Homo sapiens: one gene and its partners. The protein of the gene in region 1 interacts with the protein of each later gene in a biochemical or structural test. Each region holds a gene or a part of one and is shown in the gene's direction. Other genes may lie near its edges. The genes, in order: GIPC2, ASIC3, SHROOM3, LPXN, PDZRN3, REELD1 and SLC22A12.

Region 1 (3,500 bases):
GGGAGACCTCAAGAAACTTACAGTCATGGCAGAAGGTGAAGGGGAAGCAAGGCACGTCTTACATGGTGGCAGGAGAGAGTGAGTGTGCAGGAGAAACTGTCGCTTTTGAAACCATGAGATCTTGTGAGAACTCCCTCACTATCACGAGAACAGCCTGGGGGAAACCACCTCATGATGCAATCACCTCCCACCAGGTCCCTCCCTTGACACGTGGGGATTGCAATTCAAGATGGGATTTGGGTGGGCACACAGAGCCAAACCATATCAATTCTCCACTTGCATAACCTCATACTTTATTCAATATGTGCTTGCTGAGACAGGCACAGTCTAAGTGCTGGTGATACAAAGAAGAATAAAAACCCTGTTTCTCTTCTAAAAGGAGAGAAGCATGAAAAGAAGCTATTACAACCCAGTGGGATAGGGTTAATGGAAGCAGGTGCAGGATACACAGTGTCACAAAGAAGGGGCTGATCAGCCATTGACAGGGATTGGGGAAAGAAAGGAGGTCAGAAGGCTGGGTGCAGTAGCTCACGCCTGTAATCCCAGAACTTTGGAAGACTGATGTGGGTGGGTTACCTGAGGTCAGGAGTTCGAGACTAGCCTGGCCAATGTGATGAAACCCCATCTCTACTAAAAACATAAAAATTAGCTGGGCATGGTGCTGGGCACCTGTAATCCCAGCTACTTGGGAGGCTGAGGCAGGAGAATCACTTGAGCCCAGGAGGCGGAGGTTGCAGCGAGCCGAGATTATGCCATTGCACTCCAGCCTGGGTGACAGAGTGAGACTCCATCTCAAAAAAAAAAAAAAAAAAAGGGTCAGGAAGTGTTTCTCTCCGGAAGAAATTAGTGAGTGAGTTCAAAATGGGGAAGAAGAGTGTTCTAGGCATGGAACAATAATGGGTTTTGGGGACCTGTAAGCTGTTCATGAGATTGGAGTGTGGGGTGCTGGAAGTACTGGTTAGGTAGGGGTGATGAGGCTAGAGGCATAGGCTGGGGTTAGGATATGAAGGGCCTTGTGGATAATGAGGGAGCCATTTAAGAATTATGAGGGGAGTAACACAATCAGTTTTGTGTTTTAGAAAAATCCCTTGGTTCCAGGGTATGGGTTGTTGAGCAGCTTGGATTTGAGAGGGTGAAGACCAAAGGCAGGGAGACAAAATAGGAAACCTCTGCAAATCAGAAAAGATGAGGACTAAACACTGGCAAACAGAATGTGGATGGAGAAGAGGTGATAGATCCAGATCTGTTCCGTAGCAAATAGGAAATATTAGAATGGTAAAATATTGGTGGCCATTTGGGTATGAGGAGTACTGACACTTGTCACCGTAACTTAAAACGTGCCTGGATAGATATAAAGGTTAATACCTGTTAATTTGCATAGCCTGTTGCTTTATACAGACAATTCAAGATACATTGTAATGAAGGCAAGAGCAATATATTGTCTGTTATTGTTTTTAAGGTTTAGTTCTTGTAAATAAAAATGTGAGAAAGTTGTATTAATATCTTCAAGGAAATAGATTTTTATTTGCTATAAAATGCATGATTTTAATAAAATTTGAGACTACAAAACAACATATATTTATAACAGTATTGAAAGTAACATGAAATTCTTATAATCTAAATAATGAATTCTACATTTGCATGTATAGTTGAGTAGTTAACATCTTTGGGCAATTCCATTTTCAGCTATGATGCCATTTAAAGCCAAGTATTGAAATAAACTGAGCAGAATTTACCAAATATTAAACCAAAAATTTAAAATAATATTTTTACTGAAATGTTTAGTAATCATTTCGGGAAGAACAAAAATGTTTTGGTACCATTAATACATAACACAAAAATGATTTAAAAAGTATTATTTTATCATCTCATTCTTATAAAATTTCCTTTTTTGGTGTATTTTTATAATCTATACAATATATTAATATGGTAATACATGTGTAATTGATAAGCAATACATACAATAAAGTTAAAAATACACAATAAGGGTATTTGTTCAGAAAAGTTTTACTATTGGGATGAGCCATCAAACGTTTGGAGACCCTGGCCTGCACCATAAAGACCAAAGTCCTTTTCATGGTACACAGGACTCCTCAAGATCTAGTCATATTTGTCACTGTGTTCTCCAGCTACATGGGACTTCTGGCATCCCTCTAACATGACTCTGTGACCTTACTTAGACTTTGCCTATCTATTGCATCCTACTTGAAGTGTCCTCTCCTGCTTATCTCCTCTTCATCATTGAAAACACAGTTCTTGGCTGGGCGTGATGGCTCATGCCTGTAATTCCAGCACTTTAGGAGGCTGAGGTGGGCGGATCACTTGAGTCCAGGAATTGGAGACCAGCCTGGCCAACATGGTGAAACCCCGTCTCTACTAAAAAAATACAAAAAATTAGCTGGGCATGGTGGCGCACGCCTGTAATCCCAGCTACTTGGGAGGCAGAGGTTGCAGTGAGCTGAGATCACACCACTGCACTTCAGCCTGGGCAACAGAATGAGACTCTGTCTCAAACAAAACAAAACAAAACAAAGCAAGACAAAAAAACCCCGCCACAGTTCTTAAGACATCCTTCTTTTTCTCTGAGACAGGGTCTTGTCCTGTTGCCGGGTTGGAGGGCAGTGGCAGAATTATGGCTCACTACAGCCTCGTCATCCTGGGCTCAAGTGATCTTCCCACTTTAGCCTCCTGAGTGGCTGGGACTAAAGGTGCATACCACCACACCTGGTTACTTTTAAATTAAATTAATTAATTAGTAGAGATAGAATCTTGCCATGTTGCCCAGGCTTGTCTAGACCTCTCAGGTTCAAGTGATCCTCCTGTTTCAGCCTCCCAAGTGTCTGGGATTACAAGCATGTGCTACCACACCCAGCTAATTATTTTAATTAATTAATTAATTTTTTTTGTAGAGATGGAGTCTCACCATGTTGCCTGGGCTGGTCTTGAACTCCTAGGCTGAAGCAACTCTCCCACCGTGGCCTTCCAAAGTGCTGGGATTACAGGTGTGAGCCACTGTGCTCAGCCAAGTCACCTTCTTTCTAAAGTCTTCCATGACTGTTAGAGATATAAATTTGCTTCCTCCCCTGTGATGCTTCTGTGCCTTTTATATCCTTTAAAAACTGTTACATGTTATTTATTTTCACATCTGTTTCCTCTTCTAGATTGTTAGCTACTTGGGGATTGTGTTCCTGGCTTTTCTTTTTTGAATCCGTAACACTTAGTGCTGACACTAGAAATAAGTATTTACTGTATTGATTTGTATTTAGTTACAGAGCACATTCTAGATCTATTTCCATTAAAATTAGCTGAAATACACAATTATGAACCGGCTCCACATCAGGCTTTCTCTTGTGTATGCCCTGACAATCAAGAGATTTTGTTGTATAATATCTTATTTCTCTCTTTTTTGATAAAGCCTTCTGAAACCAAAGCAAAGGCAATTGAAAAGATTGATGATGTTCTTGAGTTGTACATGGGAATTCGAGATATTGATTTAGGTA
Region 2 (4,126 bases), on another chromosome or scaffold:
CCCTTCACCCGCCCCCTAGAGAAGCAGTGAAACCCCTTGGCTAGTCCAGCTGGAAGAGCTAGACCGCAGGAGCCGCGCCGTCTTCCTAACCTCGCCTCGGCCTTCGCTCCACAGTGGAGAGTGGGAGCCTAGCTGTGCTTGATGCTGAATGCCTGTTTTGAGAGTGTGAGTGGGATCATCTACAGTAAATACTTGCAAAGCATGGCACTGTGGCTCTGGGGAGCTGGTACGCCTGTGCTGTAACCATGGTACTCAGTCCTTCCAAAGTGTTTATTAATCAAGCACCTGTCATGTGCCATTGAGCCCACGATGGGGAATGAGGACAGTCCCTGCCCCCATGAAGCTTGTGTCCTGTTGGGAGGACAGACAGGTGGCCCAGCAGTTGCAGCATGGTGTGTGCACACGTTTGGCTGGTGGAACCATGTTTCTACCACTCATGGTCAAAAAAAGCCCACCAAAGTCCTGGGAGTTCACATCTGTGTGATGATACGGCAACATTGTTTGTAATGGAAAGACTGGACACCCCCAGTGCCCATCAGTGGGGGAGTCATTAAATAAACTATGGTATGTGCACATAATGGGTGGTATGCAGCCCTTTGGAAAAATGTAGGTTTTCCAGGTCCTGGATATAGCAGCGTAAGATGGGAAATCACAGAATACCCATGTTGTGCCTGAGATGGCAGGTGGGGTACCCGTGGTACCCGGGAGGGTGGCAGGTGGGGCACCCATGTTCTACCTGGGGTGGCAGGTGAGCCCATAACCATTGTAGAGGCCAACATCCTCAGAGGCCTGAGTGTGGGGAGGTAGGCTTTGACTCCCTAGGGAGAGAGGGACACTTAGGAAACAGACGGGCCCTGGAAGTGGGACATGAAGAGTGCCCTGGCCATCCAGTGTAGGCTGAGATGCTAGGGGCACAGAAAGAAGAGATCTGCTGATGCCAGCCTTCCAACCATTTCCCAGCTTGGCCAAGAGCCAGCTCTGGTATTCGTGAAGGAACAGATCCTGGGTGAAGCTAGAGGGAAGGCCGCAGAGGCAAAAGGAGAGAGGAGCTAGGCCAGGGGTCAGCGACTGACCCTCGCGGCCAGTGTACAGGGGTTGCAACTGGGAGCCTAGGGGGCCCCAAGGCATCTCCAGGCCCAATCTACCTCTGGGCTTTTCTCAAGCTCTCCCTAGGATTACTGCGGTTTCCTCCTGGCGCCTCTCGTCTTGGACAGCCATGCCCCCCTCCATGCTGCACTAATGGCTCAGCCTGGGGCCCTAGGGACCTCTCCTACCCCCCAGACTGCTCTGTCGGCCCCCTTTCCCCCCTACTGCTGAAACCCAATCCTCTGCAGCAGCGCCGGCTCAGCACCGCCGGCTCAGCACCGCTCCGCAGCCCCTGCCTGCCACGGTCAGCTACGTCCCACCTGGTCTGCTGCGGAGTCCCCAGCCCAGTGCCTAGCCCAGTGGAGCCACCGCCTGTTCCTCGGGAAGGAACAGTGGGACCTGACCGGCCAGATCACCTCCTCCAATCCTGCCAGGCTAGTGCCTCCCTGCCTTCCAACCTTGGCTGTCTCCCACCCTCTCTTCTCCTCTCCTTGCCTGGCCTCCTGAATCCTATCTTAGCCTCCTTAGCCCCCTGACTGACTCTCTCTCGCTTCTTCCAAGCCTCTGTAGCTGGTTCCGCTCCTGGGTTCTGGCCATGAAGCCCACCTCAGGCCCAGAGGAGGCCCGGCGGCCAGCCTCGGACATCCGCGTGTTCGCCAGCAACTGCTCGATGCACGGGCTGGGCCACGTCTTCGGGCCAGGCAGCCTGAGCCTGCGCCGGGGGATGTGGGCAGCGGCCGTGGTCCTGTCAGTGGCCACCTTCCTCTACCAGGTGGCTGAGAGGGTGCGCTACTACAGGGAGTTCCACCACCAGACTGCCCTGGATGAGCGAGAAAGCCACCGGCTCATCTTCCCGGCTGTCACCCTGTGCAACATCAACCCACTGCGCCGCTCGCGCCTAACGCCCAACGACCTGCACTGGGCTGGGTCTGCGCTGCTGGGCCTGGATCCCGCAGAGCACGCCGCCTTCCTGCGCGCCCTGGGCCGGCCCCCTGCACCGCCCGGCTTCATGCCCAGTCCCACCTTTGACATGGCGCAACTCTATGCCCGTGCTGGGCACTCCCTGGATGACATGCTGCTGGACTGTCGCTTCCGTGGCCAACCTTGTGGGCCTGAGAACTTCACCACGGTGAGCTGACCTCCCTACCTATCCTGCCAGGGACCCAGAGAGCCGACCAGTCCCTGCCCAGCACCCACAATTCCCTAGCCAGCACAGGCTCCCCCAAAGCCAGGGGACCTCTTCCTTCCTACCAGCCATGGACTCCCCACCCCCCAGTGCCACTCCGTGCAGCCCAGGAAGCTGTCCTCCTTGGGGCTTTCTCTGTCTCCCAGCCCGAGGGGAGCATGTGAGGCCACACTGACCCCGGCTGGCCCTAGGCCTGAGGTCTGGCCCAGGGAGGCCCTGCTCCTGGGGCTGGGGGTCCTCCATGGTGGGACCATTCTGGGGCAGAAGACCCCTATCTCTGCCAGGAGGTGGGGGGGGCTTGCTTTCCCTCTGCCTTTTCAACATACTGCCAGCCCCGGAGGACAGCCACAGGGGCCCATTTCCTTTTCCTGCAGTTCCCAGAGAAACACAGAAAAACCTGTAGGCTGTGCCCTGGGCTTTGGTGGGGATTGGCGGGGTGGAGGAGCTGAGTTGATGGGCTCCCAAGAGCGTCCTGCAACATGTGCCCACTGGAGCGTGGGGCTGGGGGCATTGAGATGCGGGCTTCAGTATTCAAAGAAGAGACGCAAACATACCATGAGGTGGGGAGAGGTCCCATGACCATGTGCCTGCCTGGGGGAGATGGCCATCACCCTGTCTGCCCGCCCCAGATCTTCACCCGGATGGGAAAGTGCTACACATTTAACTCTGGCGCTGATGGGGCAGAGCTGCTCACCACTACTAGGGGTGGCATGGGCAATGGGCTGGACATCATGCTGGACGTGCAGCAGGAGGAATATCTACCTGTGTGGAGGGACAATGGTAGGGAGCACACAAATGAGGCTGGGGGAGGGCACGGATGGAGTGCAAAAGGCTAGGGGAAGGAGAGGAGGAGAGGAGGTGTCAGGGTGTTCCCCCAGAACCTGTGAAAGGGGCTGGGCTGGCTCATCCCAGTCCTGGGGAGAGGGGCTGCAGTGAGAGGTCTTGTCTGGTTGGGCAGGAGACCTGACCACACAGGTCAGGCCTCACAGGTCCCTCCCCGACAGAGGAGACCCCGTTTGAGGTGGGGATCCGAGTGCAGATCCACAGCCAGGAGGAGCCGCCCATCATCGATCAGCTGGGCTTGGGGGTGTCCCCGGGCTACCAGACCTTTGTTTCTTGCCAGCAGCAGCAGGTACCCTTCCGTGTGCCTCCACACCTACTACTTCAAGCCCACACCACCTCAGACCCTAAACCCTCAGCTCCTCAGACCTGTCTAGGGGCCTCTCCCCAGCTGGCCTCTCACGCTCTCCGGGAAGCCTCCTTAACCCTGTCCCCCCACAGCTGAGCTTCCTGCCACCGCCCTGGGGCGATTGCAGTTCAGCATCTCTGAACCCCAACTATGAGCCAGAGCCCTCTGATCCCCTAGGCTCCCCCAGCCCCAGCCCCAGCCCTCCCTATACCCTTATGGGGTGTCGCCTGGCCTGCGAAACCCGCTACGTGGCTCGGAAGTGCGGCTGCCGAATGGTGTACATGCCAGGTGAGGGGCTGGGGTTTTCGTCCCATGGCGGGCAGGGCCCAGGGAGCTGAGGCTGCTTCTAAAGCCATCTCCCCGGTACCCGCAGGCGACGTGCCAGTGTGCAGCCCCCAGCAGTACAAGAACTGTGCCCACCCGGCCATAGGTAAGGGCGAGCCTCCCCCACCTCCCGTCCGCCCCGCTCCGCCCGCGGGCGTCTGACGCGGCCCGGTGGCCCGCAGATGCCATGCTTCGCAAGGACTCGTGCGCCTGCCCCAACCCGTGCGCCAGCACGCGCTACGCCAAGGAGCTCTCCATGGTGCGGATCCCGAGCCGCGCCGCCGCGCGCTTCCTGGCCCGGAAGCTCAACCGCAGCGAGGCCTACATCGCGTGAGCTGCGC
Region 3 (2,525 bases), on another chromosome or scaffold:
GCCATCCTCCCATCTCAGCCTCCCAAGTAGCTGGGACCACAGGTGTGCACCACTATGCTTGGCTAATTTTTTGATTTTTTATAGAGACGGGGGTCTCGCTATGTTGCCCAGGCTGGTTTCAAACTCCTGGGCTCAAGGGATCCTTCCGCTTTGGTCCCAGAAGTGCTGGGATTACAGGCATGAGCCACTTCACCCAGCCACTTTTCTAATTTATAGACATAAAAGTAATTGACTCCCACAGCACAGTAACAGGCAATGCTGCTTGGCATGCCACAAACATCTGAAAGCTTGTGACACTCCTAGGATTGTGTCCATTCTTTCATTATGTGGAAACTTTGTTCTGTTATGTGAAATGGGTAAGGCACCAAGTGAGACTTTGAAATCTAATTTTTAGGTGGATGTGATATTTATTGTAATAGGACTTGACCTCTGTACTTTAAAGAAATCACTAACCAAATTTTCAAAGTTTCCTTTTAAATGCGTTTAGCTAGAAATCTATGTATTTATCCCTTTCCTATTTTGCATTCTTCTCCCACTATTTTTAAAAACTCATTTACAGTAGAAACCATTCTTCTTTCTCCCAACAGTATCCTTTGCCAAGACCATGAGAACAGTAAGGAGCATGTTGTTGGTCAGGGTTTCAGAATACGCGTGATGTCACTGAGAATGTTTGCTCACAGTCAATAATTGTCTTTGTGGATGTGATAATTTTGGAGATACACTTCTGGTCAGAACTCAGGTGAGATAATCTTGCAATACTCCAAATGCAGATACTCCAGCCACCCGCAAGGTTCCAGGAAAGGACAATGTCCTGCGAGAAAATCAGGAGGCCTCCACTTCCTGGGCCACTTGAGAAGTTCCTGGGCATGTCACTACATGTTGGTTGACTCAGCCATTTCTCATGCTGTTTTGTTTCTTGCGGTGGCCACTTAACCCCAAAGAATGAAGGGAGGATCCACAGTGAAAGTGCCTGAGTTTCTCTATGAGACCAGATGCTGTCGAAACCAAACATCTTTTCCTTTGCTCTATGGGAACATTTTAGGGTTTGTTTTGCACAGCTGGTTTCCAGACTAGAAGATTAACAAGTTTGGGTCCACCCCTAAGAATCAGTGGCTGTCTTTTAAGGTGAGGAGTGTGGGCTTAACTGAGGTCCTTTGAGGGAGCTATAAAGGAGAAACAACCTGGGACATCCCAGTTTTCCTATTCCTCCACTGTTAATATCTCATCTAAAATAATTCATGAGTTTAAATGGTAAATATATGCTTTAAGCTCTACCTTTAAACTTGTATGTTATTCAGGCATCTCTTATTAAGATACTGGGTCTCTGGATACCCAAGGAAATGTTGGCTTTTTATTCTTATGTGGTTCCAAATTTACTTCTCTTCAGTTTAATTGTCCATGGTAGTGCTGGCTTCATTGTTAGGTTGGAGTTATTATTTTCCTTTTAGAACAACATGAATTTTATTCACCTTACTATTAGAAAAAGGAATAACTACAGCCAGAAATAACTTCATTTCCTACAAGGTATAAAAAGTGGTCAAGTGAATGTGAAGGGGCTTTTCTACACAGGAATATATTATCGGGAACAAAGTATTTCCTGCTGCCTTAACTCTTTGGGATGCATAGGATAAAATGATAAAGACCATTTTAATATCAGAAAGGGTTGTCTTATTAATTTTTAAATAAAACTTCACATTTCTTAATGGGGAGCTCATTCAGAAACTAAATAATGGTTTCTCAAAGTGTGGTCAGGATACGATCTGCATCAGAATCCTTGGAATGCTTGTTAAAAATACCAATTGCTATGACAAAACCAAGTCTGCTGGAAACTGCATTTCAGCAGGTTTCCCATGTTATTCTGATGTATTTTAACATTTGAGAGCCACTACCAATCATCTGTACAGTTCCTACTGTTATGATCACAATAAGACTAACATGAATTTAATAATCTGAATAATTTTTAAAATTTAAATAAACAGAAATTGAAGTTAAATTTAAAAATAAAAATAACCTCAGAAGTTGAAAGTCCTGTCATATTTATTCTATTAGCTATATAAGTTTATACTGTCTCCACTACTTTTATATAATCCCCAAGGTTGTGATACAGATTTTGTTCCCTGTTTACTCTTTTTTAGATCTGTTTTAAACAAGTTATGCACTTATTCAGATTTAATTGCACTAATTATTTTTCCTCAAAAGGAATCAGTTTTATCACACATTGCCAGTAATTTTAAGTTCTGCCCTGACTGAAATTAATCAACTGGCCTTTTCAGTGGGAACTTTACTGATTTAGTGGGAATCAGATTCCTGTTGCTTCATCACAAATGTTATCCTACATATGAGTTAGAACCTCTCCTTGGTGTGGATTTGACAATTTAGCTAATGAAACAAGACTGTGTTCATTTTCTTTGAGAAATGAAAGCAGCTGTCACCCAATTTTGAAACTCTAAAATCAAAATTAGGCAAGAAGAAAGTTGTGAATGAAAAAACTGGCTCATTGATTCCTACTTCATTCTATAAATTAT
Region 4 (3,500 bases), on another chromosome or scaffold:
AAATTGTAAAATATATTCTTCATTTTTCTATTATCTTTACATTTAAAAATATTGATATCTATCTTTAATTTGTCTCAAATTTATTCATGTATTTGGTGTGTTGGGGATCCATATTTATTTTGTACCAAATAGGTTGTTATTCTTTGAGTCGAATAGTCTGTTTTGGATGATTTGAAATGCCCCATTGCTCATATAGGAAGTTCTTTTAGGTGCAGGAGCCTGTTTCTGGGTTTTCTAATCTACTCCTTTGACCTATTTGTTTTTCTTTTTCTTCTTCCTTTCCTTTCTTCTCTTTTTTTTTTTTTTTTTTTTTTTTGACAGGGTCTCATTCTGCTTCTGTTGTCCAGGCTGGCATGCAGTAGTGTGATCACAACTCACTGCAGCCTTGGCCTCCTGGGCCAAAGTGATCCTCCTGCCCCAGCCTCCTGAGTAGCTGAGACGACAGATGTGTGCTACCACATCTGGCTGATTTTTAAATTTTTGTAGAGACAGGGTCTCCCTATGTTGCCCAGGCTGGTCTTAAACTCCTGGGTTCAAGCAGTCCTCCTGCCTCAGCTTCCCAAAGGGATCACAGGTATGAACGATCGCACCCAGCCCTATCTTCTTTACCAACATCATACAAATTTAATTATTGTTACTCTATAAGACACCACATCTATCAAGACAAATCTTCCCTCCTGTTTTTTTTTTTCTTTACAACTTTTAATTTTTATAGAGACCAGGTCTCTCTCATGTTTCCCAGGTTGTTCGCAACTCCAGGTCCCAAGTGATTCTCTTACCTGGACCTCCCAAAGTGCTGGGACCACAGGTGTGAGACACCACACACCCCTCCTATTTTGTTTTTCCAAAATTGTCTTGAGTGTTCTATCCCATAAATGTTAACATCATCTTATTAATTAGCTTGAATAATTATATCAGAATTTTTATTTGAATTACATTGAATTTACAGTTTAGGGGAAACTGACATAATATTTATCTTCATTTATATAGGCTTTCTTTTCTAAAAATAAATTTTATTGTGCATATTTAAGGTGTACAATATTATGTTATGGGTTATGAATAGTTAGTAAAATGGTTACTATAGTGAGGCAAATTAACATATTTATTATCTCACACAGTTACACATTTTTGTTTGTTTGTTTTTGTGGCAAGAACAGCCAAAATTTACTCTTGCAACAGGAATCCTAAATACGATACAATTTCATTACCGATAGTTCTTATGTTGTACATTAGATCTCTAGGCTTGTTCATCTTACATATCTGCTACTTCATATTCTCTAACCTACATGTCCCCATTTTCACCCCCTTTCCTGCCTCTCATCACCAGTGTATCTACATATTTGACCTTTTTAAATGACAAAAGAGGATTCCACCTATAAGTGAGATCATGCAATATGTTTCTTTCTTATTTAACTTGGTATAATGTCCTTCCAATTCATCAATGCTATGACAAATAGCAGAATCTCCTTTTTTTAAGGCTCACTAATATTCTGTTGTGTATGTGTGCATATTTCACAATTTCTTTATTCCATTGGTGTCCATCCATTGATGGACACTTAAGTTGTTTCCACCTCTTGGCTATTGTGAATTGTGAATATTGTGGCAATGAACATACGAGTGCAGAGATCTTTACGAAGTGGTAATTCCATTTATTTTGTGTATGCCCAGAAGAAGGATTCCTGTGTCATGTGGTATTTCTATTTTTAATTCCTTTAGAAACCTGCATATTATTTTCTGTAATGGCTGTAACAATCTACATTCCCACCAACAGTGTATAAAGGTTCTTTTTTCTCCATACCCTGGCCAACATTTGCCATCTTTTGACTTTTTGAGAATAGCCATCTGTTTGTGAGTGGTATCTCATAATAGTTTGATTTGCATTTCCCTGATGATTAATGGTGTTGAATACCTTTTCATATACCTTTTGGCCATTTTTATTTCTTCTTTGGAAAAATATCTATTCAGGTCCTTTGCTCATTGTTTAATTGGATATGTGGATCTTCCTTTATGTCTGCCAATGGTTTTTCTTCATAGAATTCTTACACATTTCTTGTTAAATATATTATTTGATATTTTACAACTTTTGTTAGAATTGTGAACAGGTTCTTTTTTTCGCATTGGATTTTCAAACTGCTTATTGATGATCAATAAGAAAGAGACTGTTTCATTTCATTCTTGTATCTAATCACCACCCTGATCTTTTTTATTCATTCCAATGGTTGTTCAGTCATTTATCTTACATTTTCCTGGGAAATTATTATACCATCTATTTTAAAAGAAAGACTGAGGATGTGCTGCCTTTTTTTCAAATATATAATTCTCTTATTTTACTTTTAAATGTGTTTGATAATGTATTCTAGAATAATGTTGAAGATTGCCAGTGATAATAGGATCTATGTCCAACTTATCTCTTAATTAGATATCTGCTTAATAATTATGAGGCTTGCTATATATTTCTTATGGAAACATTTTATCAGTTTATAGACTTTTTCTTATTTTTCTTGATATTCAACAACAGGAATGGTTGTTAAATGTCTTCCACGGCTTTTTCAGCACATATCATTGTGTTTATAAAGCTTTTCTCCTATTTGTTAATGAATTATATTAATCTTTTTCCTAATTTTGAATTTCAAACTATTTTTGGATAACCAGTATAAACACCACCTAGCCATGACTTGTTAAAATTTTTTATGTTTTTTAAAAAAAACACATTTCAACTGATTTTATTTAACCTTCTCTCTTCACACATGCACATCGTTTTTTCTTTGATTTTAAAAAGTTTCTGTGCTATTTATAGAATGAATTAGGTAATGTTCCATATTTTTCTATGTATTTGGGAATTTTATACAATGATCCCCCAAAAACTGTCAGTTTTTGTTTTATTTCTTGTTTTCTGTTTCACTAATTTATGCATTTATTCCTTCTGTTGAATTATTTTAGATTTTTCTGAGACTCTTGACTTGGAAGTTTTATTTATTTCTGATCTTTCTCACTTTTTAATATCACACTTAAGTCTATTTATATATTTTCTTCTCAATAACATTTAGCTTTCAACTCCCAAAGGCGTGTGTGTGTGTGTGTGTGTGTGCATGTGTGTGAGTGTGTGTGTGTGTGTGTTTTCATTGCTATTTCTAACTGGTTTGAAAATTCAGTTTAATTTTTTTATCCCAAGAATTATTTAGAAGTGCTTTGTTTTTTCTTAAGTGGATAGTTTTTATGATTAATTTGTACTTCTATTCACTCCAATCTAAGAATATGGTCTATATGATGTACTTTTAAAAATTTATTGAGCTTTACTTTGTATCTTCATACATAGTTAATTTTACTAATGTTTATGCAGCTACTTGAATAGAATCTGTATTCTGTTTATTGGGTCCAAAGTTTTATTTATTTATAATTTACTTACAATTATATGAATATGAAATCATCATCATATATATTATCTAAACTTTCTGCACCAGAGATTTGCAAACTTGTTCTGTAAAGAGGCAGATAGTAAG
Region 5 (3,500 bases), on another chromosome or scaffold:
GAATTCCTTCTCCATAATAACTTGCCATATGCCGCTATGGCCTGAACTGTCATTTACTTAATATTTTCAATGGACTTTTTAAAGAGCGAAAGGATTATTAAGAGGAAACTTCATATTACTTCCATGAAGGGAAGACTGGTATCATCTGACACAAACTGGAAAAATACACACTATTAAAACATAACAATGTAATGAATTTCTAGTTAGCTATTATTGCCTGATAAAGGCTCGGAGCCTGAGGCTGGCCTTTTCTTTCACAGGCAAGATTAGCAAGTGATGAAATTGTGTTAAAGACATTCCACGGGGAAGCTAAGCCTTCCCGCTGTGAGATTTATTATTGCATGCCAGATCTGAATACCTCCAAACTCACTCTCTTTCCACCAGGCATTCTTCGGGAAACCTAAACACAGAGAACTGAAGTTCTCTGACACCACCACCTGCTTCTTTCTTTTAGCTGCTTACACATGAAAGCAGGCAATTCATGTATTTGTCCTTCCGTTTTCTGCTTTATTCTAACCTTGTCCCACCCTAAATATTTTTCCACAGGTCAACGGCAGAGACTTATCCAGAGCAACTCATGACCAGGCTGTGGAAGCTTTCAAGACAGCCAAGGAGCCCATAGTGGTGCAGGTGTTGAGAAGAACACCAAGGACCAAAATGTTCACGCCTCCATCAGAGTCTCAGCTGGTGGACACGGGAACCCAAACCGACATCACCTTTGAACATATCATGGCCCTCACTAAGATGTCCTCTCCCAGCCCACCCGTGCTGGATCCCTATCTCTTGCCAGAGGAGTAAGTAACCTAATCTTGAACCCCTAATGCATTAAGAAGTATTTCCAAGTTGGTTTCTTTCTCTTCTATGTGGTGAAAAAAATTAATGCACCCTATAGTTTTCCTCCAAGTTGCCCATGTTTAACTTTATTGTTTATAGAGGCAATAAATCGAATCCTGCTCAAAACCGCTCCGACATATTAATTACTTTATTATAACCCTGGAGCGGACTTATTCAAATTATATCCTAAGAACAGAATTACTTACAAATGTTGTAAAAGTTGTTTCAGAATAAAATGTAATCACCCCAAATGGTAATTTGAAGATCCTGCAGTTATTACTAGGGAATGTTGATCATTCTTTTAAATAGACAAAAAAGTAAGTTGTGTGTGTCAAGAGAGCCCTGGAGGTTGTGCCTTCTGCTTTCTTGGGTCTCATTTCAAGCCTGGATCCATGTAATAAGCCCGCACATGCCTCATCTAAGTACTGCATCAACCAATTAAATAACAGCTGCAACTCAGCACGCCACATGGATTTCTTTACACACACCTCTTCTCTCAACTTATTTCTGCCAGCGATAAAGAGTCCTTCAGAGGCTTCAAGTCAGACAAACCTGATGCTCAAAGTGATTTCTAGTTGTGGAACTTGGGTAACTTACTTTGTTTTGTGGGGCTGTATTTTTCCTATATTAAAATGGAGATAACAGTATCAATCTCTTATCATTGAAGGATTAAATGAAACAATATGTGGGAAGTGCTCATGGGGCATATGGTAAGCACTCAGTAAATGGTACCAGCGATCACCGTTAATTTAGTGGGTGATGTAAAATATTCAGGAAAAAATGAAGAGCAAGACACTTTCTGTGATAGACTGCTGGCCCCCAAGGTGTCCAGTTCGACATAGCTTTTAACATAGCTTTTCAAGGCCAGGCGTGGTGGCTCACACCTGTAATCCCAGCACTTCGGGAGGCCGAGGCAGGTGGATCACAAGTTCAGGAGATTGAGACCATCCTGGTTAACACGGTGAAACCCCGTCTCTACTAAAAATACAAAAAACAATTAGCCAGGTGTGGTGGCGGTCACCTGTAGTCCCAGCTACTCGGGAGGCTGAGGCAGGAGAATGGCGTGAACCCGGGAGGCGGAGCTTGCAGTGAGCCGAGATCATGCCACTGCACTCCAGCCTGGGCAACAGAGCGAGACTCCGTCTCAAAAAAAAAAAAAAAAAAAAGCTTTTCATGTGTGACTTTGCACATCTGAGGACACAGCCTCTCCAGCTGATGTTAGGGTCGCCCCTGTGTTTTCTCATCTCAGCTCCATCTCGGATCAGATCATTGACTTGATACATTATTTCAAAGGGCATTTTCACCTCTTACAGGAGAATCCACTGGGTAATACCTGTTGGATTCCTACTAGTAACTCAGTAGCTGGAGTGAGCACATGTTTCCTATGGTTCAGTCAAGTTCTGGATAAAGGCTTGCCCTTCATCCCTTGGTCTTAGTGGCTAGCTGTCATTGGAACCCAGGACTAATTCCCCAGGCTTGACAGAGTAGGTTTGGCAGCAGCTGGTAGCATAAAGACAGAGGACAGGGCATCCGTCTCACATTCACTCACAGTGTGCACATGTGCAAAGAACTATTATCTATCTCCTTCATTTCTCATGACTGTCCCTTTATACAGATGAGGAACTGCAGACTCACCAGGTTCCACTGAGCTGATGGAAAGGCAGGTCAGTCAGACCCCGACTCCCAGCTCTGAACCACAGTACCCTGTAGTGACCCATTCCATCCTCTGGAACAACTGGCTGATTCACTGAGTATGATGATCCAGACCATTTATCTGACGTTACAGACCAAACTGCCTCACATTATTGATGAAGCCTTTAAGGCTACTTCTGACTCTTAAATGTTGACCTGTCACAGTGATGGGCCTTTTAGAAGCTAAACCTGTAATTTCCTCTTAGGTCTAGTTAACATGACATGACTTATCCCCTGGGGGCGACTTGAGAAATGTCAGAAGAGTCCAGAGGTCAGGCCTCTTCAGGTTCTGGCTGCAAGGTCAGACAACAGCAAGAGCGTGTGTCGGGACTGAATGGGGAATGTTAAGTTGATGCTTGAAAGCCCAGACCTTCCAACAGTATCCTCAGTACTAAAAGCCCTTTAAGTGCAGGCAGTATATTTGCCTGATGGGTCCAGAAAATTGAAAGCCAGCCCTTGTTTGAATGGCCACTCATGTCTGATCTGTTGTTTCAAAACTAAGTGCCTGGGAGGGAAGACTAGAGCCCATTGATTGCTGTGCTGACCTTTGAGGACGTGAAGGTTTGGGTCCCCAGCCAACAATCAGAGGCTGAAGCTTTGCATCTGGCACCGTGGACTGTTAAGCTCCTTTCAAAGCTGCTGATGGAGTATGTTATGATTCCCACTGCCTTGGCTCCTTGAGGTTGCATTAATGACGTTTCCAAAGATGTCGTGAGTTCTGTGGACTGTGTTTTGCATATGTTGTCCTAGGGAAACATAAGCTTCCAGTCTCCTAGCAGAGTGAATGTGTGTGTACTCATTATATGTAAACATATACACACAGATGCACTTATGCCTACATGTTTGTATGTGCATTTCAACCATGTAAGTGCATACTGTACGTTTGTGATATCAAACATATTATTGTGGGTAACATTCAAAAAGACACGGTCCTAGGTAACAGCAGAACAGTTTCATTCTCAGCCTTTTGAACT
Region 6 (4,038 bases), on another chromosome or scaffold:
TGGGGTGAGAGTAAAAAAAAAAAGGAGAGGAGGGACACTTTTGTCTCTAAGACTGGGATAGGAGCAGAGTGGAGTGGAGAAGAGGTTAGCCACTCTCCTGCTAGGGGCAGAGATCTGTGTCAGGACCCAGTGGAGGGGGTGGGAAGAACCCAGGCCACAGCCTTGCTGAAGACCTGAGCCCCTTTTTGGCATAGAAGCCTTCCAACTAACAGTCTTCAAGTGACCACATGAGCTCTGAAAACTATCATAACAGCAGCCATGGAAGGAATGTATCCTAATTTTCTAGACCTCCCAGAATTTCTCATGACTCAGTGGGAGATTGAGATTGCCTCCAATCCTAGTGGGATAGAAGCTTAGAGAAACCAAATTGAATTTGTTTGCTTTTGTTCTGTGTGTGGGGAATACTGGTATCCTAGGCCAAGGAAGCCCAATTTCCCTTGGTGTTTATAGGATAGATAGTCTCATTTACACTTGCAACAAAAGGCTTAGCAACCTGGTCCCTAAGCCAGTGCCTTGCCTATTCAGTCACTCATAGCTTTAGTTTTTTCTGAGTGGAGACAAGGCCTAACAGTCAGAACATTGCTCTCTCTGCAGCCCCCTACTCCACATCACCCAGGACTATCAATCCTAGGATTCTCTCTTGGACGCCTTGCATTCAAACAGCCACCAAATCCTACCTCCACCTGATCTCCTGATCTCCCAAATCCATTCCTCTCTCTTTTTCTTCATTGTTAATGTTGCAAGCTTCTAGGTGATGCTGGTGTTGCACTCTAGGGACCACACATTGAGGAACACTGATCTATAGGCTCTCTGGTATTATCAGGTGTCTCAGCAGATTCTTAGATGAATGAAAATGTGAACTCCAGCTTTAGTGCAATTGATACGGGAGGTGCCTATGCCACGTGTTATTTTTTTGTACCAAACGTTGCTCTTGGGCTAACGTATCAATTCTATTTCACCAAGAGTAACTTCAGTCCACACTGACTCAAGAAGCCAAGAATGCTGAGATGCATTTCATTCAAACATTCTCCCCTTTGCAGGGAGATCAAGATGGAGGCATCCAGCTTCTGCCAAGGATGTCAGTGCCAGTCCTGTGCAAAACCAGTTCCGGTTCTTTCTAGTTCTTCACGCAGGCTTGAACAATGATGTGACTGTAAACCGTGTGTGTGTGTGTGTGTGTGTGTGTGTGTGTATGTGTGTGCTAATACGATTTAGGTTGGATTTGGACACTGAGGAACAGTTCCTGGAGATGCTGAGGATTAGTGGTAGCAGCTGTTATTCTCCCCATTAGAGGAAAAACTGAAAGGAGAAGAAAATACTTATGTTTAAGGGATGTGTTTGCAACTCTGCGGGAGGAAGCCATTCTATCAAGCCTGAAGAAAACTGTGTTCCTAGGTAAGTGGATGTTTTTATTTATTTATTTTTGTAGAGACAAGGTCTCCCTGTGATGCGCAGGCTGGTTTTGAACTTCTGGCTTCAAGTGATCTTCCTGCCTCGGCCTCCCAAAGTGCTGGGATTACGGGTGTGAGCCACCATGCTCAGCTCCAAGTGGATAGTTTTCAGGGTTCAGGTAGACAAGATGCTAGTGGGAAAGAAGACACAGTGAAACCTAAGGCAGGAGGGTGGGAGGTGGGGCTGTGGCCGTAGTCTGTGAGTCCAGGCACTCACTCCCCTTCCCTTGTAGGCAACTGTGTCTGATCTGCCTTTGGAAAGACCACTTGCCATCAGCAAGGACTTGAGGAGCATTTTCATTTCATTTCTTTCTTTTCTTTTAAGAGACAGGGTCTTGCTCTGTACCCAGGCTGGAGTGTAGTGATGTGATCATAACTCACTGCAGCCTCGACCTCCTGGATTCAAGTGATCCTCCTGCCTCAGCCTCCTGAGCAACTGGAACTATAGGTGCGCACCACCATGCCCAGCATTCAAGGGGCATTTTGTATGTGGCCCTTATGAAAGAAAATGAGAAGAACCCTGAGCCCCCTTGACTGAGAATGTGCTTTTACACAGTTCATCTTCATTATCTCCTAATGTGTCTGAGAAGCTGTAGCCATGGTTCCTTGTAGTATGGAGATGTGTGACTTTGGTGCTTCATAGAAAACAAACTTAGAAAAGAAAGGCATTGTCTGAAGGACTCTTATGTCTAAGAAATTTGAGGTATAGATCATATTCCTGTCTTCTTTTAGCTTGTGAATGTAAAAGGTGGTGTTGTGTGAAGAGACAATGGGAGTGGAGGACACTTGATTATTTGGTTTATGGATTATTTCCTTAGTCTATTGTTCTGATAGCTAGTTTTACTACATTTTCAGGATTTTATTTTCACCTTTTAAAACCAGCTGACTACAGGGGAGGGCATTTTTTTTTTTTTTTTTTTGCCTTGCATTGTTCCTTAGGTCAAAAAATTAGCCAAACTTCTAAAATGCCTGTGTGCAGGACTATAAAAAAAAAAACAGAACTTTTTTTTTTTTTTTTGAGATAGAGTCTCGCTCTTTTGCCCAGGCTGGAGTGCAATGGCATGATCTCAGCTCACTGCAACCTTGGTCTCCCAGGTTCAAGCAATTCTCCTGCCTCAGCCTCCCGAGTAGCTGGGACTATAGGCACATGCCACCACACCCAGCTAATTTTTTGTATTTTAGTAAAGACAGGGTTTCACCGTATTGCCCAGGCTGGTCTTGAACTCCTGTGCTCACGCAATCCACCTGCCTCGGCCTCCCAAAGTGCTAGGATTACAGGCGTGAGCCACCGCACCTGGCCTAAAACAGAACTGTTAAAAAATGCCTGTGATAATCCTAAATATTTATGTAGGCAGATTTTCATCTGCCTTGTTTGCTATCTCTCATTTTATTTTTGTCATCTTCTTTTACATTGCCAAATTTTAATTCTTCCTCTTGATGGGAATTAGAGGTAGTAAACAAAAATAAAATTTACTCTATAAATGCTATTTTATTCAATCATTGTATTCTATTCCTGAGCCAAAATTGTTATCAGTATGTTTAAGAAGTTATAGAATAAATTGAGTATTTCTTTCTCTGCTCATCTTCTTTACTAAAAGTAGTGAAATAGCTAAAAACAGCCAAAGAAAGGGCAAAGAGATATCAAAGCATTGCCAGCTTAACAGTCACTTCTAAATAATTGATAGTTGGTAGATGTTTTGTAGCACTTAACTTGGTAATTTTCAATTGCAACAGAGATAAGATGCTCAGCCAAGCCATCCCATGCCATGCTGCCTGACCATGGTGGTGTATTGAGTGTCTACTTCAGATAATGTATCAGAGGCCACACCGCCTTTGGGTACCAGTCAGCTTGCAAGGAGCTCACGCTAGGATACAAACATTTTCTGGTTTTATTTCTTTGACTCAATAATTAAAGCCTCTCTTTTGAACAACAACAAAAAAAGCAGTCTGGTCTTATGAGAAAATTACAAGAACAGAAGTTTTTAAAAAGGTGTTTGGAAATGAAACACTTCCTATAGCCTGGCATTTCCTTTTGATCTTGGCCTTGAACATTAGCAATCCTGGGAGGCTGCACTAAAAGCATCTCAGGTACAGAGGCAGTGTGGGGTTCAGGTTAGTCACATCCCGAGAAGACTTTATGTCGTTTTCCTAAATAACGTCTGGACTGAAGCTGCTGTTTGTCATGATACAGGAGAGGGCAGGATGAGGATGCAGGCTGCCCTCGTGGGCTGGGCTTGTACCACCCTCTGCCTGGCTTCCTGCTCATCTGCCTTTTCCCATGGTGCCAGCACGGTGGCCTGTGATGACATGCAGCCCAAGCACATCCAAGCCCAGCCTCAGCACCAGGACAGCCACCACATCACCATCCACACCCACAGGACTTCCTATGCACCAGGTGACAAGATTCCAGGTATGTACCAGAGAGGCTTAGAGAGACTCCGAGGAGCCCCAGAGCCCCCATGGACCTTCCAGTTTGTGTTTGTCCCAGTCAGAAGCTTCCTGGACTAAATTTGGCTTAATCCCTTTTTTTTGTTTTTTGTAGAGATGGAGTCTCACTGTGTTGCCCTGGCTGGTCTGAAACTCCTGG
Region 7 (3,500 bases), on another chromosome or scaffold:
GCACACACAGCGCACAGCCGCAGTCTGCTTCATGGGCTGACAGAATCAATGCTTGTGTCTGTCTGCTGGAAGACAGGGACCAGGATCCACTCATCAGAGGGGAGTCCACAGTCCCCACAGAGGGCCGGCATGTGTGGGAGGTTAGGAAATGTCAGCACTGCCCTGAAACAAATCAGGCGTGGCCCTTGCCGAGCACCTGGCACATAGTAGGTGCTAAATAAATATTTGTTGAATGGATGAATTGTTAGGTAAGTAGAAATAGATAGATAGGTAGGTAGGTAGGTAGGTAGGTAGGTAGGTAGGTAGATAGATAGAGACAGATAAATAAATGGGTTGACAGATGTGTGGATTGGATGAGTGGATGGGTGAGTTGGTGGATAGATGGATTGGATTGTATAGATGAATTGAATGGATGGTTGAATGGATGGATAGATGGATGGATGGTTGGAATAGATGGATGGACGGATGGATGGATGGATGGATGGATGGATGGATGGATGGATGGACGGACAGACGGACGGACGGTTGGATGGATGGATGGATGGATGGATGAATGGATAGTTGGAATAAATGGATGGATGGATGAATGGATGGATGGATGGGTGGATGGACGGACGGATGGATGGACAGATGGAATGGATGGATGGATGGTTGGAATGGATGGATGGATGGAATGGATGGATGGATGGAATGGATGGATGGATTGTTGAATGGATGGTTGGATGGATGGATGGATGGATGGTTGGAATAGATGGATGGATGGATGGGTGGATGGATGGATGGATGGATGGATGGATGGATGGTTGGAATAGATGGATGGATGGATGGGTGGATGGATGGATGGATGGATGGATGGATAGATGGATAGATGGAAAGGATGGATGGATGGATGGATGGATGGATGGATGGATGGATGGTTGAATGGATGGTTGAATGGATGGTTGGATGGATGGATGGATGGATGGATGGACGGATGGATGGATGTTTGGAATAGATGGATGGATGGATGGATGGATGGATGGATGGATGGATGGAATGGATGGATGGATGGATGGATGGTTGAATGGATGGTTGGATGGATGGATGGATGGATGGATGGATGGATGGATGGATGGTTGAATGGATGGTTGAATGGATGGATGGATGGATGGATGGATGGATGGATGGATGGATGGACGGACGGATGGATGGATGGATGTTTGGAATAGATGGATGGATGGATGATGGATGGATGGAATGGATGGATGTTTGGAATAGATGGATGGATGGATGGAATGGATGGATGGATGGTTGGAATGAATGGATGGATGGATGGTTGGAATGGATGGATGGATGGATGGTTGGAATGGATGGATGGATGGAATGGAAGGAGGGATGGATGGATGGATGGTTGAATGGATGGATAGATGGATGGATGGTTGAATGGGTGGAATGAAAGGATGGATGGTTGTAATAGATGGATGGATGGATGGTTGGAATAGATGGATGGATGGATGGATGGTTGGAATAGACGGATGGATGGATGGTTGGAATAGATGGATGGATGGATGGTTGGAATGGATGAATGGATGGATGGATAGATGATTGGAATAGATGGATGGATGGACGGTTGAATGGATGGATGGATGGATGGATGGATAGTTGAATGGATGGAATGGATGGATGGATGGTTGGAATAGATGAATGGATAGATGGTTGGAAAAGATGGATGGATGGATGGATGGATGGATGGATGGATGGATGGATGGAATGGATGGATGGTTGGAATAGATGGAATGGATGGATGGATGGATGGATGGATGGAATGGATGGATGGTTGGAATAGATGGAATGGATAGATGGATGGATGGATGGATGGTTTGATGGTTGAATGGATGGATGGATGGAATGGATGGATGAATGGAATTGATGGATGGATGGGATGGATGGATGGATTGATGGATAGTTGGAATAGATGGAATGGATGGATGGATGGATGGTCGAATGGATAGTTGAATGGATGGATGCATGGATGGATGGATGGATGGAATGGATGGATGGATGGATGGATGGATGGATGGATGGATGGATGGCTGAATGGATGGTTGAATGGATGGTTGAATGGATGGATGGATGGATGGGTGGATGGATGGATGAATGGATGGATGGATGGATGGAATGGATGGATGGATGGTTGGATGGATGGTTGAATGGATGGATAGGTGGATTAATTGGATGAACTGGATGGATGAATGGATAGATGGATGGACGGAGGCCATTTGAGGGCAGGGCTGAGCCTGGATCATTCATACACAGGCCCTGCACTTAGTAGTTGTTTGGTCATTGGGACCACTGTAGAAAGGAGCACAGCAGAGGCCCAGTGGTGAGCAGGTGCCCGCACCCACACTAAGAAGAAGGCTGAGTCCACAAATCTCTCCCACCCAACAGCTTGGAGTGGAGTAACAATTTGCAGCCACTCCTCAGAGCAGGAGAAAATTACATCTCATACAGTGGCTCCACAAGGAGGCAATCGTGTCCGACAAGAGCCTTCTGGGATGGCAGCTTGACTCCCAACACCAAGAGGGTAGAGAGTGGAAGGTAAAGGTCAGTGATAAAAATTCCAAGGCACCCCTCCTGGTTCTCATGCTGATGCAGGGCCACAGAGCTGCACCCCCCTTTCCTTGGTAGACGTGCTCCCACAGGGCTGAAGAAGTGCCCATTCATTCATTCATTACTTCATTCATTCAACAAATAACTACTGAGCACCTACCATGTGCCAGGCGCTGGCTGACACCAGCTATGAGCAGATATGTGGTCTCTGCCCACGTGGAGCTCATAGGGAATCCCACACATCGTGGCCTCACAAACTGTGCTTAGGGCTTGACGAACAACCTGGGGTATTGACATCTGAGAATGGGACCCCGCTTTCTCCCTCCCAGTCACTTACAACACATTCCAGTCAGCTTTCTCCCTCTTCTCCGCCCAAACTGCCCTTCCCAGGGTCACCCACAATGATCTGGCCACCATCACTTGTGGTACCTGCTATGTGGCGGGCACAGTCCACACTCTCTCCCTCAGGCAGCCTCACCCCTGCCTGCAGCCCCAGCTCCCTCCAAATACTGCAGACCCCAAATCTCCACTTGGTCCTGCCTCCCCCACTGACCTCCAGCCTTACACCTCCAACTGCCCACGTGACGGTTCCATTATAGGTGTCTCATCCCCACACACATCTCCTTAGACCTCTCCTCCCCAAGTCTTCCCCAGCGTGGGGAGCAGCCCCTGAACTCACCAGAGTCACAGTGGCCATGACGCCTCTCTCTCCCTCACCATCCCCCCACCAAGTCCACTGGGTCACCAGGCTTCATCAGCTCTATCTCTAATATGCACCTGGAATCTCCACTTCTCCCCTCTGTTCTGCAAATCCCTAAGGAGCTCAGGGCCCCGGTGGGTGTAGGGCAGGTGGCCCCACCCTGGCTGCTCATAGGGGACAACACGTCTGGCTGAAGGACCTGCAGGAGCCA

The links.
Region 2: the proteins of GIPC2 (region 1) and ASIC3 interact in a test that uses a peptide from one of them, tested with the Homo sapiens proteins (one large-scale study listed by IntAct).
Region 3: the proteins of GIPC2 (region 1) and SHROOM3 interact in a test that uses a peptide from one of them, tested with the Homo sapiens proteins (one large-scale study listed by IntAct).
Region 4: the proteins of GIPC2 (region 1) and LPXN interact in a test that uses a peptide from one of them, tested with the Homo sapiens proteins (one large-scale study listed by IntAct).
Region 5: the proteins of GIPC2 (region 1) and PDZRN3 interact in a test that uses a peptide from one of them, tested with the Homo sapiens proteins (one large-scale study listed by IntAct).
Region 6: the proteins of GIPC2 (region 1) and REELD1 interact in a test that uses a peptide from one of them, tested with the Homo sapiens proteins (one large-scale study listed by IntAct).
Region 7: the proteins of GIPC2 (region 1) and SLC22A12 interact in a test that uses a peptide from one of them, tested with the Homo sapiens proteins (one large-scale study listed by IntAct).

What each region holds. Positions count from the first base shown.
Region 1 is NC_000001.11:78,122,466-78,125,965, forward strand, and holds part of GIPC2 (PDZ domain-containing protein GIPC2), read left to right. Parts: intron 1-3,415; coding exon 3,416-3,497; intron 3,498-3,500.
Region 2 is NC_000007.14:151,047,205-151,051,330, forward strand, and holds the start of ASIC3 (acid-sensing ion channel 3), read left to right. Parts: upstream 1-1,326; 5' UTR 1,327-1,681; coding exon 1,682-2,215; intron 2,216-2,901; coding exon 2,902-3,052; intron 3,053-3,276; coding exon 3,277-3,404; intron 3,405-3,553; coding exon 3,554-3,749; intron 3,750-3,834; coding exon 3,835-3,891; intron 3,892-3,967; coding exon 3,968-4,115; intron 4,116-4,126. UniProt on the Homo sapiens protein: Forms pH-gated heterotrimeric sodium channels that act as postsynaptic excitatory receptors in the nervous system. Upon extracellular acidification, these channels generate a biphasic current with a fast inactivating and a slow sustained phase.
Region 3 is NC_000004.12:76,781,229-76,783,753, forward strand, and holds the end of SHROOM3 (protein Shroom3), read left to right. Parts: 3' UTR 1-2,025; downstream 2,026-2,525. UniProt on the Homo sapiens protein: Controls cell shape changes in the neuroepithelium during neural tube closure. Induces apical constriction in epithelial cells by promoting the apical accumulation of F-actin and myosin II, and probably by bundling stress fibers.
Region 4 is NC_000011.10:58,555,357-58,558,856, reverse strand, and holds part of LPXN (leupaxin), read left to right. Parts: intron 1-3,500. UniProt on the Homo sapiens protein: Transcriptional coactivator for androgen receptor (AR) and serum response factor (SRF). Contributes to the regulation of cell adhesion, spreading and cell migration and acts as a negative regulator in integrin-mediated cell adhesion events.
Region 5 is NC_000003.12:73,401,442-73,404,941, reverse strand, and holds part of PDZRN3 (E3 ubiquitin-protein ligase PDZRN3), read left to right. Parts: intron 1-546; coding exon 547-794; intron 795-3,500. UniProt on the Homo sapiens protein: E3 ubiquitin-protein ligase. Plays an important role in regulating the surface level of MUSK on myotubes. Mediates the ubiquitination of MUSK, promoting its endocytosis and lysosomal degradation. Might contribute to terminal myogenic differentiation.
Region 6 is NC_000004.12:146,213,300-146,217,337, forward strand, and holds the start of REELD1 (reelin domain-containing protein 1 precursor), read left to right. Parts: upstream 1-1,238; 5' UTR 1,239-1,395; intron 1,396-1,776; 5' UTR 1,777-1,899; intron 1,900-3,642; 5' UTR 3,643-3,653; coding exon 3,654-3,861; intron 3,862-4,038.
Region 7 is NC_000011.10:64,594,220-64,597,719, forward strand, and holds part of SLC22A12 (solute carrier family 22 member 12), read left to right. Parts: intron 1-3,500. UniProt on the Homo sapiens protein: Electroneutral antiporter that translocates urate across the apical membrane of proximal tubular cells in exchange for monovalent organic or inorganic anions. Involved in renal reabsorption of urate and helps maintaining blood levels of uric acid.